Linked DNA regions of Homo sapiens: region 2 is linked to region 1. Evidence: fine-mapped expression QTL. A gene starts in region 1. The other region holds a variant in brackets. All regions are shown on one strand. Distances are between the middles of the regions.

Region 1 (8,323 bases):
CTGAAAACAATGAATGAATGGGTTTCTCCCCACCCCCATCCCAGACTCTGACTCACCCTCTAGTCCCAGTTTGTCTCAAACCTGGAGGCTTGCTGTATTTCTCATGGTCTTGTTTCACATGGGACTCTGTTCCAGGCTGTGGCCAGAGAGAGCTGTGGGTGCTCTTCCTGGCTGTGTTCTTGGGCAAAGCCCTTTTCTCCAGCACCAGAACCTCCTGACACAGAGAGCCACTCTGGGCCACTCAAATTGCGCCTCACCCCAGGACCGACTGCTGTTTCCCAGACACTGGGGGTCTGGCTCTGACACAGCCACAGAGCAGGCCACGGGAGGGCCACTCGGACACCCAATCAGTCTCTCCCTCTAGCAGAGACACCACGCGGGGTCCTGTTACCAGCCCTGGGAGGCTCCCGTGAATTTATCGCTCCCAGTCCCTGCCCACTATTTGCTGGATGATCTTAACAAGTCACTTCCTCTCCCTGGGCCTCAGTTTCCTTGGTGGTAAAAACTGCTGGACCAGCGGCTTTCAAACTTTTTAAAAAGCCACAGAATCCTTTTTAAAAATCAAATGCTCCGTAGAAGCCCAATATAGGAAATAGTAAAACGAGGGCTGCCCTGCTTGAGAAGAGGTCAGGCTTGGCTAATCTCCTATGCTGTGTCCACACCTGCTCAGCACCCGCCCTCACCAGGCCATATCACCCGGGTTCTCCTCGCACTTCCCAAGTCAGAATAGGAATCCCAACACTCTCCGGTGGATGAGGGTCTGCACCCCAGGGGCCAGGGGGTAGAGGATGATGGGAAAGCGGGTTCTGACCAGACAAGTGACTGCCGTCAGACCTGTCTGGCAAGCAGGCCGCCCCTTGGTCCAGCCACACAGCGGGGGCACAGGGGCCTCGGCCAGGCCGCGGCAGAAGGCAGCCCAGGGACCTACCTGCGCCGGCCGCCGGCGCCCGCGGATCCCGCACCCGAGTCCTGGCCGCACAGGTGTGCGGGCGGGGGCGAGGCCCAAGCGAAGGAGCCCCCGCCTCGCCCCCGGCCGCTCCTCCCCTCCCCGGGCGGAACGCAGGCCCTCCTCGGCCGCGGAGTGGGCGAGCCGGCGGCAGCCCCGGTGGCGGCGGGGAGGCTGGAGCACCCGGCGCCTGCGGAATTTTCTCCCCATCCCGCCCCCAGCAGGGGCCCCGCAGGCGCTTCCTGAGGTCAGAGGGCTCGCCCTGGCCCCACGCGGAAAAGTACCAGCCACGGCCGGGGGGCCGAGACGGGCCCGGCGCGCTCAGGTGGGCTGCGGAGCGCCCTGTCTGCTCCCGGCAGCTCCACCCTCGGGGCCGGCCCCGGGGCCAGTTCCGGAAAGCCGGCGGGCAGCCGGGCCCCGGGGGACCCGGGTCAGGGCTGCACCGGCGCCAGTGCCCCGACCCTCCCCGGCCCGAGCACCCGGGCCGCGGAGCCCGCTCCTGGGGCAGAGCTCCACGGCCCGGCCCGGCCGGCTCCCCTCGGGCCCGGCTCCCAGACGCGCTTGCCTTCCCCGGGCCCCGGGCCCCGCGCCCTCGCTACTTACCCTGGGGAGCCCTGGCGGGGAAACTTTTCCAGGCGACCGCCGCGGCGGCTCGGGCGCCCCTCGGCCGCCCATGCCGCCCGGGCCCGACTGCGGGCCCGCGTTCCCAGCGCCGTGGGCCCCAGCGCGTCCGGCCCCGCGCGGCGGCCCTGCGGGGCCTTCTGGGGCGCCCGCTGCCTCCGGCTCCTGGTAGGGGCAGGTAGGAAGTGGGGCAGGCGATCCCAAAGTCCTCGCGGCCGCCCGGCGCGTCCCTCAGGCCCCGCTGCCGTGCCCCCGCCCCCGGGCTCGGCTCTTCGCCCCGCGAGCTCCCCGGGAAGACGGCCGCGGAGACCCGAACTCGGAACCAAAGGGAAAGGCTTGGGGGAGGCACTCCGAGCCCTGCCTCAGCCGGACTCTTGGGGGACTGGCCCTCTCCGTCCCCCGCTTCCCCACTCCTGGGCGACGAATTTGAGCCTGACCGGGTTAAGTGCCCAGGGACGGCGGACCTGGGGTCCTCCACTCCCAGGTCGAGGGAGGACTGCACGGCGGCAGGACCAGCCTCCTCTTGGCCTACTGTTAGAGGAGTCACGACTTCGTCTGCATTTGTATAGACAGGTGGATATATGAGCAGAAGTAGCCCACCTCCTTTTAATATTTTTAGCTTTTTTTTCTTTTTAGACACCAACCGCTTGCCAGGCACCAGGCCAGTCACTTTACATTATCTCCTTCTTATGTACATGATTTAATCCACATAATCCTTTCAGGCTGAGATTATTAATCCCATTTTACAGATAAGGAAACTGAGGCGCACAACGTTTAAATAATTTGCGCAAAGTCCCACAACCAGCAGACCTCAGATCCTGCAAGAGACTGGGGTGTTTGGCAGAGCCTGAATCCAAGCTACTTGCAATATACCAGCCGGAGCCTCTCCCTCCCTGGGCCCTAGAAAACGTTTGTGCTACTTGGCTGAGGCCGACGCTGCTTGAGCTGAGAAAGAAAAGAAGGAAAATGTGGCCAGGAGCTTCCCAGGCTGGGTTATTCCAAGGTCGCAGAGTAGCCTGTGCCCATCTCTTCTCGCTCCCTGTGAGATAACCTGGCTGCACAGGATCAGCCTGTGGCCTCCTTAACACAGGTTCCCGGGTAATGGGAAAAAAAAAATCCACTGAGTGTTTTCTATGAGCCAGGCACCATTGAGAGCTCTTTTCCTGTGTCAACCCGTTTTATCCTCACCACATGCCCCATGAGGTGGGTACAGTACATTTTCCTTTAAGTACCTTTGATGTATCACTGTCTGCATTTTATAGAGGAGGAAACTGAGGCCCAGAGAGGTTAAATCATGATAATTCTTAAGGCAACTGGTGAAAAATCAATCAGCAAACCGGTTCAAATCCCTGGGGCACTATTTTTTGCTGGGACACCTTAGACAAGTTAATTTCTCAGGGACTTCCTCAATTTACCCCTCTATAAAATGGAGATAATATTTAGTGAATGGGATCAGGTACGATTCGGGCACCTTTACAAACACTGCAAGAACTGGAAACTGGAGGAACAATGCTGGGTCCTCAAAGTTGAGCGGGAAGATAAGTCCAGTTGGCCTTGTCCCAAAGTGGGGACTTCCCCTCCGCCAAGGAACTAAGACTTGTAGGGGCCACACTGGGTAGCGCCAGCCACAGTTGGGAGAACAATACTCCAGCAGTCAGACTGAGGCAGGAAGTGACTCACGCTTCTTCCTTAGGCTGTGAGCAAGAGAACTCCATTGAGGGGAAACAGGGACAGGGCTGGCCCCACCTACCCACTTGTCCTCAGGCCTAGAAGAAAGGTCAGCCCAGAAAAATAGCAATACTTGCTGCTTCAGGTGCCCCACCCATCCTGGAGACTGGCCCCAGGGGAGCCCGCAGTGGGTCTTTGGAGGGGGAGGGGCTAGCCTAGGCTCAGATGACTGCCACCCAGGCAGAGGCGGTGGGAAGTGGAGCTTCCCAGTTTCTTCCAGCCAGCTTGCCTCTTCAATCTGCATAAGGCAAAATTCTTTAAAGTGGGTTCTCAGAGGTGCCTCCCTGAGAGGGAGGAATGAGGACAGGATTGGGCAGTTGAGCACCTCTCTCTGCTTCACCCAGAGTGTCTCACATTTTAGGGTTTCACATGAGATTGTATTTTACAACAATTCTGCTGCTAAAAAGAATTTGAAAGCCACTCTCTGTGAGACTTCTCTGGAAAAAAATCCCATTTGACCACAACTGGTGACTTCTGCCTTTATCTCATTGCAACAAGTCCTGTGGGCAGGTATTGTTCTCTTTATCACTCTCAACTGGCCCTGGAGCCCAGGTCTCCTGACCTGGGGCCCTAGGGGCCCAAGGTCCTCTGGATCCCACCTTACCAGTTTTACACAGCAGTTAGCAGGACTTGGGCATGTGACAGAAGTCTGGAGATGAGTGAGAGGAGCAGGGCCTGATGGGTAAGTGGGGGCTGTAAAGGGGCTCCATTTTCCCAGCAGGGCTCTGGGAGGAAGAGTCCAGCTAGGCCTCTCTTTATCCTTGATTTGGGGCTAATCCAGAGAGGCTCCTGAGAATCACATAGTCCTAAATCCACCCAGTCATCCTGACTCCAAGCACTCCTGTTGTCTCCTTGGGGTGCTCTGGGAGTCTTCTCTGAAATCTCTGGTCCACCTCAGGCACAGCAAATAAAGCCTTCGGCAGCAGCACCCACACCTAGTTGTAAGCAGAATGTCTACACAACATTCAGACGTGCATAGAAGGGTGCACAACAAAATTCCATTGGTGTTCTCTCCGAATGAAAGGGTCACATTTGCGATCTTTGTTTTCTTCTTTTTGCCTACCTGCATTTTTCAGGAATGTCTACAAGAACTCCTAAAATAATTAAACCTTTAAGTCAATGCAAAATCGAATAAAGCATGTCCATACTTCACCATCCAGCTCCAGAGCACCTGGGATTCATCCTGGCCGCTGCTGCTTCCCCGCCACTCACTGCAGCTGCAACAGTCAGGCTCCTATCCCTTCACAGGGCGGGGCCCTTCCAGTTCTGGCTAAACCACTTTGGGAAAACCTTCTTTATATGACAGGCAAACAGGGTGTCTGTGGGTGGGGGGAGGAGCTAAAAGTGATGTGGTGGTGACATATCTGGTCGCACTGGAACTGGATCCTAACATGGCCAGCCAGCCCTTCTCATTTTCCTCATTTATTGGGGTGGGTCTGCACTTACCTTCTGCCTGGCTTTGCTGCATCCCAGCCACTGGCTGACTTAATGACTTCCTTCCGCCAGCTCCAGCTCCTTGTGTTCTGCCTTGCCTTCCATGGCCAGCCAGTGCTGCCACAATTATGTACCTAATAAATGCTTTGGGTGCAGTCTCGCCTGGCAGACATTCATTGAGCAGCTGCTGAACGCTGGGCTCTGGTGCCCCATAGCTGGGTCCCTTAGAGCTTGTCCATAGGAAGCCAGAGACCACCTCTCTAGTAGGGTTGCATGGAGGTACCTGGGACACACCAGGGTCTTCCTCAGTCTGCGACCTCCCTGGCCTTCCAGCTTCAACAAGCCTGCTGCCCATCCTTCTCTCTCTCGATTCAGAAATGTGAATCACTCAATCCTCATAGTTTTTTTTGTTTGTTTGTTTTATGGGTTTGTTTTTTTTTTTTCTAGACAAGAGTCTCGCTCTGTTGCCCAGGCTGGAATGCAATGGCCTGATCACAGCTCACTGCAACCTCTGCCTTCTGGGTTCAGGCGATTCTCATGCTTCAGCCTCCCAAGTAGCTGGGATTACAGGCTTACGCCACTCGTATTTTTTTTTTTTTTTTTTGTATTTTTAGTAGAGATGGGGTTTTGCCATGTTGGCCAGGCTGGTCTCGCACTCCTGACCTTAAGTGATACACCCACCTCGGCCTCCCTAAGTGCTGGGATTATTAGGCGTGAGCCACCACGCCCGGTCCCCTTGTTGAGTTTTCAATCAGTTTGTCATCCTGAACAGGGTTTCTCAACCTTGGCATTATCAACATCTTGGGTCGGATAATTCTCTGTAGGGGACACTGCACTCTACATTGCAGGATGTTCAGTCGCATCCCTAGTCACTAAACATTAGCTGCTAGTAGCATTCCCGCTCCCATGATGACAACCAAAAAGATCTCCAGGTATTGCCAAATGTCCCTTGGGAGACAAAAATCTCTCCCAGCAAAGAACCACTGTCGCAGAATGAGGAGTGGGAACGTCACAGGATGGTGGTTAGTGTGCCAGGGTTCGAGGCAGCAAGAGTTGTCTGCTGGGAACTAAGCTCTGAGACAGCTAGCAGTGAGGGAGAAAACTCCCAAACTTGAAACTGCCCAGTATGCCAGCACAACAATGGGCCGTTTAGTGATCAGGGCAAACAATCATGCATCCTCATGACATCTGAGATCACTTTCCATCGTGTTGGTGATAATGCTGAATCAAGGAAAGGATCAATCATGTTGATCATACTCCATTTTCTAAGGTGGGGAGGTGTGTGAGCCCTTGTAGCATTAAAGACGTATTTGGAAAACAGATCAGTGCTTGCTTGGGGAAGGGGGCAGGGAGGGGCGGGAGGAAACTTTTGGGAATGATGGACATGTTCATTATCTTGATTGTGGTGATGGTTTCATGGGTGTGTCCATATATCAAAACATATCAAGTTGTACACTTTAAATCCATGCCGTTTATAGTGTGTCAGTTATACCTCAGCAAAGCTGTTTTGAAGATGTGTTGTTTAAAGTTTTAGTGCTTGAAGGGCATTATTTTGAAAATTCACTACTGTGGAGTAGTCCATTTCTTTGCTGAATAAATAAGGGGTCACTGTAGTACTTAAAAAGAAAACAGGAAGAAAAAACAAACAGAAGAAGAAGAAGAAAAGCGATCATGGGCTGTAAGGTCGTCCTAGGCAGGGAAGGAAAGGAATGGCGTGAAGAGTTGGCTCAGTCGCCCCTGAGTGTGGCCCGGAGAGCCTGTCCTCTGGCCTACGGCAGGCCCCAGAGAGTCTTTCCGTTGACTGATGCCATCAAATCAACATGTCTGGAACGGTATTATCAGGGACTTGGGAAAAATAGAATGACAAATGTGCTGGCTGCCAGGAAAGGAACAGATGAGTCTGGAAATTATAGGCTCCTCCACAAACTTTAATCCCTAAAACAAACATTGCTGGGGAAAAAGTCAGTTAATACCTGGAGGAGTGTGAGTGCTGTCCTTCAATGGGGCACGGCACACCTGGGAGCAGAGAGCATTTACAGAAGCCAGACACCGTGTGCCAACCTGTGTCAACAGGCTCATGCTCAAGGGGCTGCACGTGGCAGCAGGGAGCACTGCGAGCGGCAGTGAGGGGCCCTCTCTGACGGTGCAGATGCTTTTTGGCTGATGGAGACCTCTACGGAGGTTCTCAGGAGCCCCTCAGCGAGGCGGGTGAGCAAGGAGAGGGGCTGTGATAGCGATGAGTTATATGTGAAAAGAAAAACTGCTTTTGTGGAGGTTGATTGTGCACTGGGCATTTCATTCACTCATTCCTCAGATACTCATTGAGTGCCTGCTGGGTGCAGGACCTCTTCCAGTGCTTCAGTTATAGCGAGGGAAGCAGGCAGTTCACAGGTGAATAAGCCAGTTTATGAGAGAAGTTCAGATCATCCTAAGAGCTCTGGAAGAAAATGATAAAGAAGGTAATGTGGGAGTGCCTGGGGAAGCGGGAGGGCTGCTATCCCTGGGGTGGTCAGGGAAGACCTCTGGGAGGAGGTGATGTTTGAGCTGAGGCTGAAAAAAGAGGCAAAAGTGTAAAGATCTGGAGGAAGAGTGTCCCAGGCAGAGGGAGAGGCAAGGACATGGGCCTGGGGGCATGAGCTTATGCACTTGGGGAGCAGACACTTCTTGGAGCATGGCCGAGAGATGAGATGAGAGGTAGGTAACGGGCTGGATCACAGAGCACTTGCCAAGCTGGGTCCAGATGTTGAATTTAATTATCAGAGCAATGGGCTCTGGATTCTCAAAATTCTTTTGGAAATTTGACTGATTTACCCTTTAATAAAAATTATTTATTTATTTATTTAGAGATGGAGTCTTGCTCTGTCGTCCAGGCTGGAGTGCAGTGGCGCAATCTCGGCTCACTGCAACCTCCACCTCCCTGGCTCAAGCAATTCCCCTGCCTCAGCCTCCCGAGTAGCTGGGATTACAGGCACACACCACCACACCCGGCTAATTTTTTTGTATTTTTAGTAGAGACAGGGTTTCACCATGTTGGCCAGACTGGTCTCGAACTCCTGACCTCAGTCAGTCCACCTGCCTCAGCCTCCCAAAGTGCTGGGATTACAGGCGTGAGCCACCGCGCCCAGCCATTTTATTTTTATATTTTTAAATTTAATTTAAAAGATGGGCTCTCACTCTGTTGCCCAGACTGGCCTCAAGCAATCCTCCTGCCTCCCCCTCCAGAGGTGCTGGGATTACAGGCGTGAGCCACCGTGCCCGGCAAATTTACCCTTTTTAAAGGCTCCTCTGACTACCATGGGGAGTAGAGATATGGGGGTTCGTGTGGGAACCCACCACAGCCCGACGCAGGAGGCACCATAGGTGACCCTCCTGATGTGAAATGTAGGGGACTGGCTTGGGGGAGTCCAGTGACTTTTTTTTTTTTTGAGACAGTGTCACTCTTGTCACCCAGGCTGGAGTGCAGTGGTGCGGTCTCAGCTCACTGCAGCCTCTGCCTCAGCCTCCCCGAGTAGCTGGGATTAGAGGCATGTGCTACCACGCCCAGCTAATTTTTTGTATTTTTAGTAGAGACGGGTTTTCATTTGCTACGTTGGC
Region 2 (8,323 bases), 46 kb after region 1:
CGTTTCTGCTCTTTCCTTGCTAAACTTCCCTCCTTCTCCTTTCCCGCCTCCCACCCGGCCCCAACATCCCCTCTATTGTCCAGCCCCAGCCTTCTGCTGGCACAGCCCTGACCAAAAGCGGGGTGTGGGGGGTTGCCCACAGCGGCCCCCAAGTGTCCCTGGGACGCGTGAATCACGACAAGGGTTACAGCTTGCCAGGCTCCCACTGCACACGAAGCACATTTGGACATTGCAGACTCTGCATCTCTGTGGCAAGGACTGCCACAACCCCCTTGGACCCAGGAACCCCCAGGAGGAAGCGCTAGTACCGGGTGTCAATGTGGCTACCCAGCGCCCGCTGCTTCTGAAGCTAACCTCGAATGCGTCGCCCACATCCATGGCTTCTCTTCTGGGCGCTTCACAGTAACCGTGGAGTAAGGTGGGTAAGTTACCGCTACTCATTTTCCTTGAAATCCCATTTCTCAGGTGAGAGAGAAAAGCTCAGAGAGGCCAAGGGCTCGGGGCAGCTGTGGTGCCACGCCCAGCCCTTTGGTCTGAACTGCCCCATAGACTGCATACAGGTCCCATTGTGTCCGGACTTGGTGGGTTCTTGGTCTCACTGACTTCAAGAATGAAATCGCAGACCTTCACGGTGAGTGCTGTAGCGAGTTCTACAGTTCTTAAAGGCGGCGTGGCCGGAGTTTGTTCCTGACGTTCGGATGTGTTCGGAGTTTCTTCCTTCTGATAGGTTCGTGGTGCGGCTGGCTCAGGAGTGAAGCTGCAGACCTTCGCCGTGAGTGTTACAGCTCCTAAGGCGGCGCGTACTGGAGTTGTTTGTTCCTCCCGGTGGGTTTTTAATCTCACTGGCTTCAAGAGTAAAGCTACAAACCTTCATGGTGAGTGCTACAGCTCATAAAGTCAGTGTGGACCCAAAGAGCAAGCAGCAGCCAGTTTTACTGCAAACAGCAAAGCTTGCATAGTGTGTAAGGCAACCACGGCTGGCTTCGGCAGCCCGCTTTTATTCTTTTATCTGGCCCCACCCGCATCCTGCTGATTGGTCCATTTTACAGAGAGCTGATTGGTCCGTTTTGACAGGGTGCTGATTGGTGCGTTTACAATCCCTGAGCTAGACACAAAAGTTCTCCACGTCCCCACTAGATTAGCTAGATACAGAGTGTCCATTGGTGTATTTACAAACCCTGAGCTAGATATAGAGTGCTGATTGGTGCATTTACAAACCTTGAGCTAGATACAGAGTGCCAATTGGTGCATTCACAATCCCTTAGCTAGACATAAAGATTCTCCAAGTCCCCACCAGATTAACTAGATACAGAGTGCCGACTGGTGCATTCACAAACCCTGAGCTAGGCAGAGGGTGCCGATTGGTGTGTTTACAAACCTTCAGCTAGATACAGAGTGCTGATTGGTGCATTTACAACCCCTTAGCTAGACATAAAGATTCTCCAAGTCCCCACCAGACTCAGGAGCCCAGCTGGCTTCACCCAGTGGATCCCCCACGGGGCCTCAGGTGGAGCTGCTTGCCAGTCCCGCGCTGTACGCCCACACTCCTCAGCCCTTGGGCGGTCAATGGGACTGGGCGCCATGGAGCAGGGAGCAGCGCTCGTCTGGGAGGCTCGGGCCTCGCAGGAGCCCACGGTGGGGAGGGGGAGGAGGCTCAGGCATGGCGGGCTGCAGGTCCCAAGCCCTGCCCTGCGGGGAAGCAGCTAAGGCCTGGCGAGAAATCGAGCACAGCAAATGCTGGCCCAGGTGCTAAGCCCCTCACTGCCCCGGGCTTGCGGGCTGGCCGGCCGGCCTCTCCGAGTGCTGGGCCAGCCGAGTCCACGCCCACCAGGAACTTGCGTTGGCCCGCAAGCGCCGCGCGCAGCCCGCACCTCTCCCTCCACACCTCCCAGCAAGCTGAGGGAGCCGGCTCCGGCCTTGGCCAGCCCAGAAAGGGGCTCCCACAGTGCAGCGGTGGGCTGAAGGGCTCCTCAAGCACGGCCAGAGTGGGCGCCAAGGCCGAGGAGGCACCGAGAGCGAGCGAGGGCTGCAAGGGCTGCCAGCACGCTGTCACCTCTCACCATGTCCTGTCCGCTGCCGACCGGCCGCCTCCTGAACCCCTTGCTGTCTGTGATGACGCAGAACCACTGTGCGTCCTAAGATCATAGGCAGCCTGTCGTCACGGCTAATTGTAATGATGCTTCCTCGCCAGGGTTTCATGCTTCTGAGTGTGCACTGCCGTCCGATTTTGTTGTTTTCTCTTGGCTTTGGAGAGGGCTTGGCTCTCAGCAAAGGAGATGTGGAGTGAGCCACTCTCATCTTTGCCCCAGTGCTTTGGTGCCTGGGGTGCCCGGGGTGTCCCTGGGAGTGTCTGTGCTGTTGAGGGCACCTGCTGAGGCCTGCATCATCTTCCCTGAGGCAGAATCTTACAACTTTCGGGGGTTGCTGGCTCCTTTGACAACCTGAGAAAGATGGTGGTCCCTTTCCCAGAAATCTGCAGAGACACACAAGAATAATACATGCACTTGAGGGGTTTAGATACCCTCTGACATCTATTTCAGGATTTTCCAGGGGTTCCTAGAGCCTGGATTGAGACCTATATTATGGGGTGTTGTCTACCTGTTCTGCCAATTTCTAGAGCTCCAAAACCTGGATGCTTACATTATGATTGGATAGCTGGGTGTAGCCATGCCTGAAGAAGGCTTCTTTTTTTGAGACTGATTCCATAAAAGGATTAGTTTGAGAATGGCTGAGACCCACTGAGTGAAAACGATGTCCTGTTTATTCACCAATCAACTTCTGCACAAATATATGCGGCAAACAATGAGTACATATAGTGTCTACGTATTACAGTACAATAACCTTCACTGAGATCCAGACACTCCGTTATGGGCTGAGCAGGCATTATCCTATTAGTCTTCATAATCCCCCAGTCGACCCTGTGGGGGATCTGTCAGAGTGGTGGGAAAAACTATAGGGAAAGGATGCAAACCTTCCGAAAGGTCAGAAGGTTTTGCAGAGCCCTGGGGGAGAATAACTGAAGGCAGCTGTTCTATAACCCTGAGGCAGAGGGCAAGGAGTAGGTACAAGGGAGTGTGGGGGAATTTATCTTAAAAGGCTTGTTTGTTTATGTTGTCCAGGAACTGACCTTTGATCATGCGGGTGTGAGGTTCCCTGAAAGGGGAACAATACCTTTTTTTTTTTTTTGAGATAGAGTCTCACTCTGTCACCCAGGCTTAAGTGCAGTATCACTGTCTCTGCTCACTGCAACCTCTACCCCGGCAGGATTCAAGCAATTCTCCTGCCTCAGCCTCCCGAGTAGCTGGGATTACAGGTGCGTGCCACCACTCCCAGCTAATTTTTGTATTTTTGGTAGAGACGGGGTTTCACCATCTTGGCCAGGCTGGTCTTGAACTCCTGACCTCATGATCCACCTGCCTTGACCTTCCAAAGTGCTGGGATTAGAGGCGTGAGCCACCGTGCCTGGCCACAGTAATTGTCAGTTACCTGCAGGTCGTGTCGGCTCCAGGTTTTCCACATTGTGCCTGCACTGAATAAAAGCAAGCAGCTCCAGCTTCTTGGGGCTGCTCTCTGGCCACTTGAGCCAGGCAGTCACCCAGCTGCTCTTATGCTGTATGCCTGTGTCTGAGAACTCATTTCATCCGTTGGCCAGGGTCTATGAGACAGATCTGGCACCACCCCACAGTATAGTGCTGTTATGAGCTCCCTGAGGCACAGAGAAGTTAAATAACTTGCTCAAGGGCTGAAGGTCACACAGCAGGTGGTAAAAGTGGCCTTTGACCCCAAGCAATCTGACTCCAGGGCCATTCAATAGTCTAAGAAATTGCAGGCCTGGCATGGTGGCTCATGCTTGTAATCCCAGCACTTTGGGATGCTGAGGCGGGCAGATCACCTGAGGTGAGGAGTTCAAGACCAGCCTGGCCAACATGGTGAAACTCTGTCGCTACTAAAAATACAAAAATTAGCTGGGCGTGGTGGCTGGCACCTGTAGTCCCAGCTACTTGGAAGGCTGAGGTACATGAATCGCTTGAACCCAGGAGGCAGGGGTTGCAGTGAGCCAAGGTCGCGCCATTGCACTCCAGCCTGGGTGACAGAGCGAAAGCCTGTCTCCAAAAAAAAAAAAAAAAAAAAAGAAT[G/A]GAAAGGAAATTGGTAGGTGAGGCTGTCCCCCATCCTGTTCTGGGACTTGAATCTGTTCCCCGCTCAGGCCACTGGATCCTGCTGGGGCCCAGGCAAGAAAAGCGGGCTCTAGACCAACCCTGCAATTGCATTTTTCTAGAAAGCCTTCATCACACGTTGCAGCTTAAGGTCCCAGTCTAGGGGTTCTCAACGGACTGTATCTTGAAGTGGCATTTGCCTGGCCCGGCAGGGAGACAGGACTCTGTTCTCAGGCAGATTTGGGTGGTAACATGACCTCATTTGACTCCCAGGCTGGCAGGGCCTGGGAAATATCAGTTTATGCTTGTTTCCAGAGTTTTAAAGGAGGTTTCCTTTGCCTCTCATACACTGCAAAATGCCTGCTTGGAGTGATGCTTTGCTACTTGCTTCCTGGTTGCCGAGTCTCCCTTTAAGTTCTGAGTCTCTCTCTAAGAGGCCCTTTGGTGTTGGAAGGGGCTTAGAACCCTGGCTTTGTCATGAGTCCCTTTCCTGAAAACAGCTCCCGTGCAAGGCTGTTCCACTTCCACATTCTCAAACACCCTCCCTCCCACAGATCCCCAGCCCACCCCGACAGTCTTGTCCAACTTGAGGATGGAGGTGACAGCCATCACGGAGTCTAATGCCCTCACTTTTTTTTTTTGAGACAGGGTCTCACTCTGTTGCCCAAGCTGGCGTGCAGTGGTATGGTCATGGCTTACGGCTCACAGCAGCCTCAACTTCCCCAGGCTCAAGAGATCCTCCTGCCTCAGCCTCCTGAGTAGCTGGGACTATAGAAGCACATTACCAGCTGGGCTAATTTTTAAATTTTTTTGTAGAGACCGGGGTCTTGCTATGTTGCCCAGGCTGGTGTCAGACTCCTAGGCTCAGGTGATCCTCCCACCTTGGCCTCCCAAAGTGCTGAGATTACAGGTGTGAGCCACTGCACCCTACTCCCTCACTTTTGCAGATGGGAAACCAAGGATGAAGGAGAGGAGAATGCCTTGCCCAAGACCTCAGTGCTAAAATTCTCGGCAGCTGTGGTTTGTATTCACCTGGGGCTGGCAGCATCGGGACCACCAGGAGACCCGGTGGAAATGCACACCTCTGGGGCGCACTCCAGACTTGCTGCATCGGAAGCCATGGCACAACCAGCTCTCCAGGTGACTGAGGCTAACACAAGTTTGAGAACTACTGCCCTGGCCCTTGCTTTCTCGGCTGGGACTGACGTTCTGCACAGGTAGGACCCAGTGACAAACTTTCACCTCCCAACTGCTCCATGTACCTTGGTCCCCACAAAAGCCTTCCTCACACACAAGTAAACTCCAGAAACAAAGGATAGGAAAGAGCTAGAAGCAGACACTGGTGGTTATGAACATCTTCACATGATAGACAATGCAGCTCCAAAGTGAGGAAAACTGGCTTGCTATTTCAGCACAAACAAGACGCCAACCAGCCAAAAACATTGGTACACAAGCAAAAGAAAACCTAGGCCAGGCACGGTGGCTCACACCTGTAATCCCAGCACTTGGGGAGGCCGAGGCGGGTGGATCACCTGAGAGGTCAGGAGTTCAAGACCAGCCTGGCCAACATGGTGAAAACCCATCTCTACTAAAAATACAAAAAATTAGCCGGGTGTGGTGGCCCGCGCCTGTAGTCCCAGCTACTCGAGAGGCTGAGGCAGGAGAATTGCTTGAACCCAGGAGGCGGGGGTTGCAGTGAGCCAGAATCCCACCATTGCACTCCAGCTTGGGCCACAGAGCAAGACTATCTCAAACAACAACAACAGCAACGAAAATAAAAAACAGAAAGGAAAAGAAAACCTAGGCTGGGCATGGTGACTCCCGTCTGTAATCCCAGCACTTTGGGAGGCTGAGGCGGGCAGATCACCTGAGGTGGGGAGTGTGAGACCAGCCTGGCCCCCATGGTGAAACCCTGTCTCTACTAAAAATACAAAAATTAGCCAGATGTGGTGGTGCACGCCTGTAATCCCAGCTACCTGGCAGGAGAATCACTTGAACCCAGGAGGCGGAGGTTGCAGTGAGCCAAGATCATGCCACCACGCCACTGCATTCTGGCCTGGGTGACAGAGTGAGACTCTGTCTCAAAAAAAAAAAAAAAAAAGAAGAAAATCTAAGTGAAAACTGCTGAAGCCAGCTGGAAAGCGGCTTCTGTTTGTCCAGATGAAGCCAGCAGAAGTAACAAGGGAGCCTTCAGTGACCTGGGGCTCCGTCCCCACTGCCTGGTGCTGGCCGTGGGGCTGCAGGATTTTAAGGCCCTGCCAGCCTGAGGCCCCGTCTCCTCCTCCTATCTTATCCTCCCATGAGAAGGCAATGAGACAGATGTCTTCGCAGCGCCCCTTCACCCACTCACCCGCCCATCCGCTCATCTATCCATCCAACAAGCTGTTATTAGGCACCGGCTGTGTGCCAAGTCCCTGGGGCTGGAACCCAGATCTGGGGCAAAGGTACAGACCCTAAGCTGAGGCCTGTGGAGGGAGTGGCAGGCCCTGTGGGGCAGGGGTCCTGGCAGGTGTGCTGGGGTCATCCCCATTGTGCCGCTCGCTGGGCTGGGGCTCATACAGCCAGGTGGCCCAGCCTAGAGTGTGCATATCCTCACAGTGAGGCGGTGGCCAGGCTGGCACAGGGCACTTTCTGCTCAGGAAAGGGGTCCCGCGGGTGGGTGCTGTGTCCTTTCTGCTCTTCCTAGGTGAGGAGGGACCACAAAGGAGAGCACAGGGTGGCTTCAGCGGGGGTGGCTGGACACTGGGATGGTCAGCCTGGAGGTCACTTGGCCGTTTCAGCCTCCTGGGCACCCTCCCCAACTCCTGCTGGCCCAGGTGCCCTGGGGTCTTCACCCTCACCCCACTTACTCCAACACTGCTCTCTCCTTCCCCCGGGGCGTTTCCCTCCCTGCCTGTGCCCTGGTTGAAGGCTGAACCATGCCTGGAGCTCTGCTCTGGTTAAGAAATGTTTGTGGAATATCTGACCAAAAGGATGCTGCAGCAGCCCCGGAGGCCAGGACCAAGTGGCATGTTGATGGTGCAGATGAGACACTGGGACTCTGAGAGGCCACAGAACTTGCCAAGGGCACTCCATGGCTGAGGAAGGGGCCAGGTCCCGCCCATTCCAGACTGGCTCTCACTGGGTGCAAGGGACCTGGTGGCGACGGTGGCCGCACGGGTCTCTGTCCTTATATGCACATCCAGCCATGCAGGCGGGTGTCTGTGGTGGGGCTGGCGTGGGCTGACCTCCGATCTCCCTGGTGCTGACTGCTGAGTTCATCTTTGAGGTTAGCAGTGTTAACTGCCTCCCTGTCACAGCGTCTCAACGCTCCCACAGTGGTGGGGGCCACAGCGCAGGGGGCCACCCCTCTCTGAGCCCGAGCAGGGCTCTGGGCAGAAGTCCAGGAGTCTCTCAGTGTCTCTGATGTCCTTCCTTCTAGGCGGGGGTTTCAGATCTGGTAGTGGTGGCTCTTCAGACCCTTACTCCGCATCAGCAGTTCCCGGGGCACCATTGCCACCTCCCACCCCAAGAGTCCCTGCTCCAGGTTCTATCCTACCAAGGAAAGTCTTCCCTACAGGAAGCAGGGACCTGAGCTCTCTGCTCCACTCCTGGCCCAGGCATAGTGCCAGGGCCTGACCTTCATGGGGCCTTGTGGCTCCTGGCAGGGACTGAGTAGATGGGGCCAGGACAGGCAGATGCCTGTGGCCTGTGTGTGTGACAGGCCCTGTGTGTGGGACCCATGGGGACAGACAGGCTCTCTGGGGTGAACTCCCACATCCTGAATAGATCTGAGCCTAGAGACCATCAGAGTGCCATCCTGGCACCTTCCCAGGCGTCACCGAACCCTCTGTGGGGCCGTGGATCCCGGCACCTTCCCAGGCGTCACCGAACCCTCTGTGGGGCCGTGGAACCCGGCACCTTCCCAGGCGTCACCGAACCCTCTGTGGGGCCGTGGATCCCGGCACCTTCCCAGGCGTCACCGAACCCTCTGTGGGGCCGTGGAACCCGGCACCTTCCCAGGCGTCACCGAACCCTCTGTGGGGCCGTGGAACCACACAGTTGAGGTGTGGCGATGCCAAAACCTCGACCTTGACCTTGGCTAGCTGCAGGGACAGCCTCAGGCCTGTGCGGGGACGCCTCACCATGGCTGGGGCTTTCTGGACTCTACTTCGGGCTTCTGTCTACCT

Evidence for each region. PIP is the estimated chance that this variant, and not a neighbour inherited with it, causes the effect.
Region 2: its variant is the best candidate, but not a certain one, in a credible set for the expression of FURIN in whole blood (INTERVAL, PIP 0.58).

The regions. Positions count from the first base shown.
Region 1 is chr15:90,864,832-90,873,154 of GRCh38, reverse strand. It overlaps FURIN (furin, paired basic amino acid cleaving enzyme), which reads right to left and starts at 4,567. Exons shown (of 16, transcript NM_002569.4): 1 at 4,444-4,567. RefSeq lists enhancers at 336-385, 646-835, 3,102-3,396, 3,334-3,443, 3,182-3,476 and 2 more and silencers at 936-1,575, 1,616-1,825.
Region 2 is chr15:90,819,075-90,827,397 of GRCh38, reverse strand. No RefSeq gene overlaps it. Among named protein-coding and RNA genes, the nearest start is that of FURIN, 45 kb to the left of the region's middle. RefSeq lists an enhancer at 1,214-1,813. The variant G/A (reference allele first, on the strand shown) is at 4,137.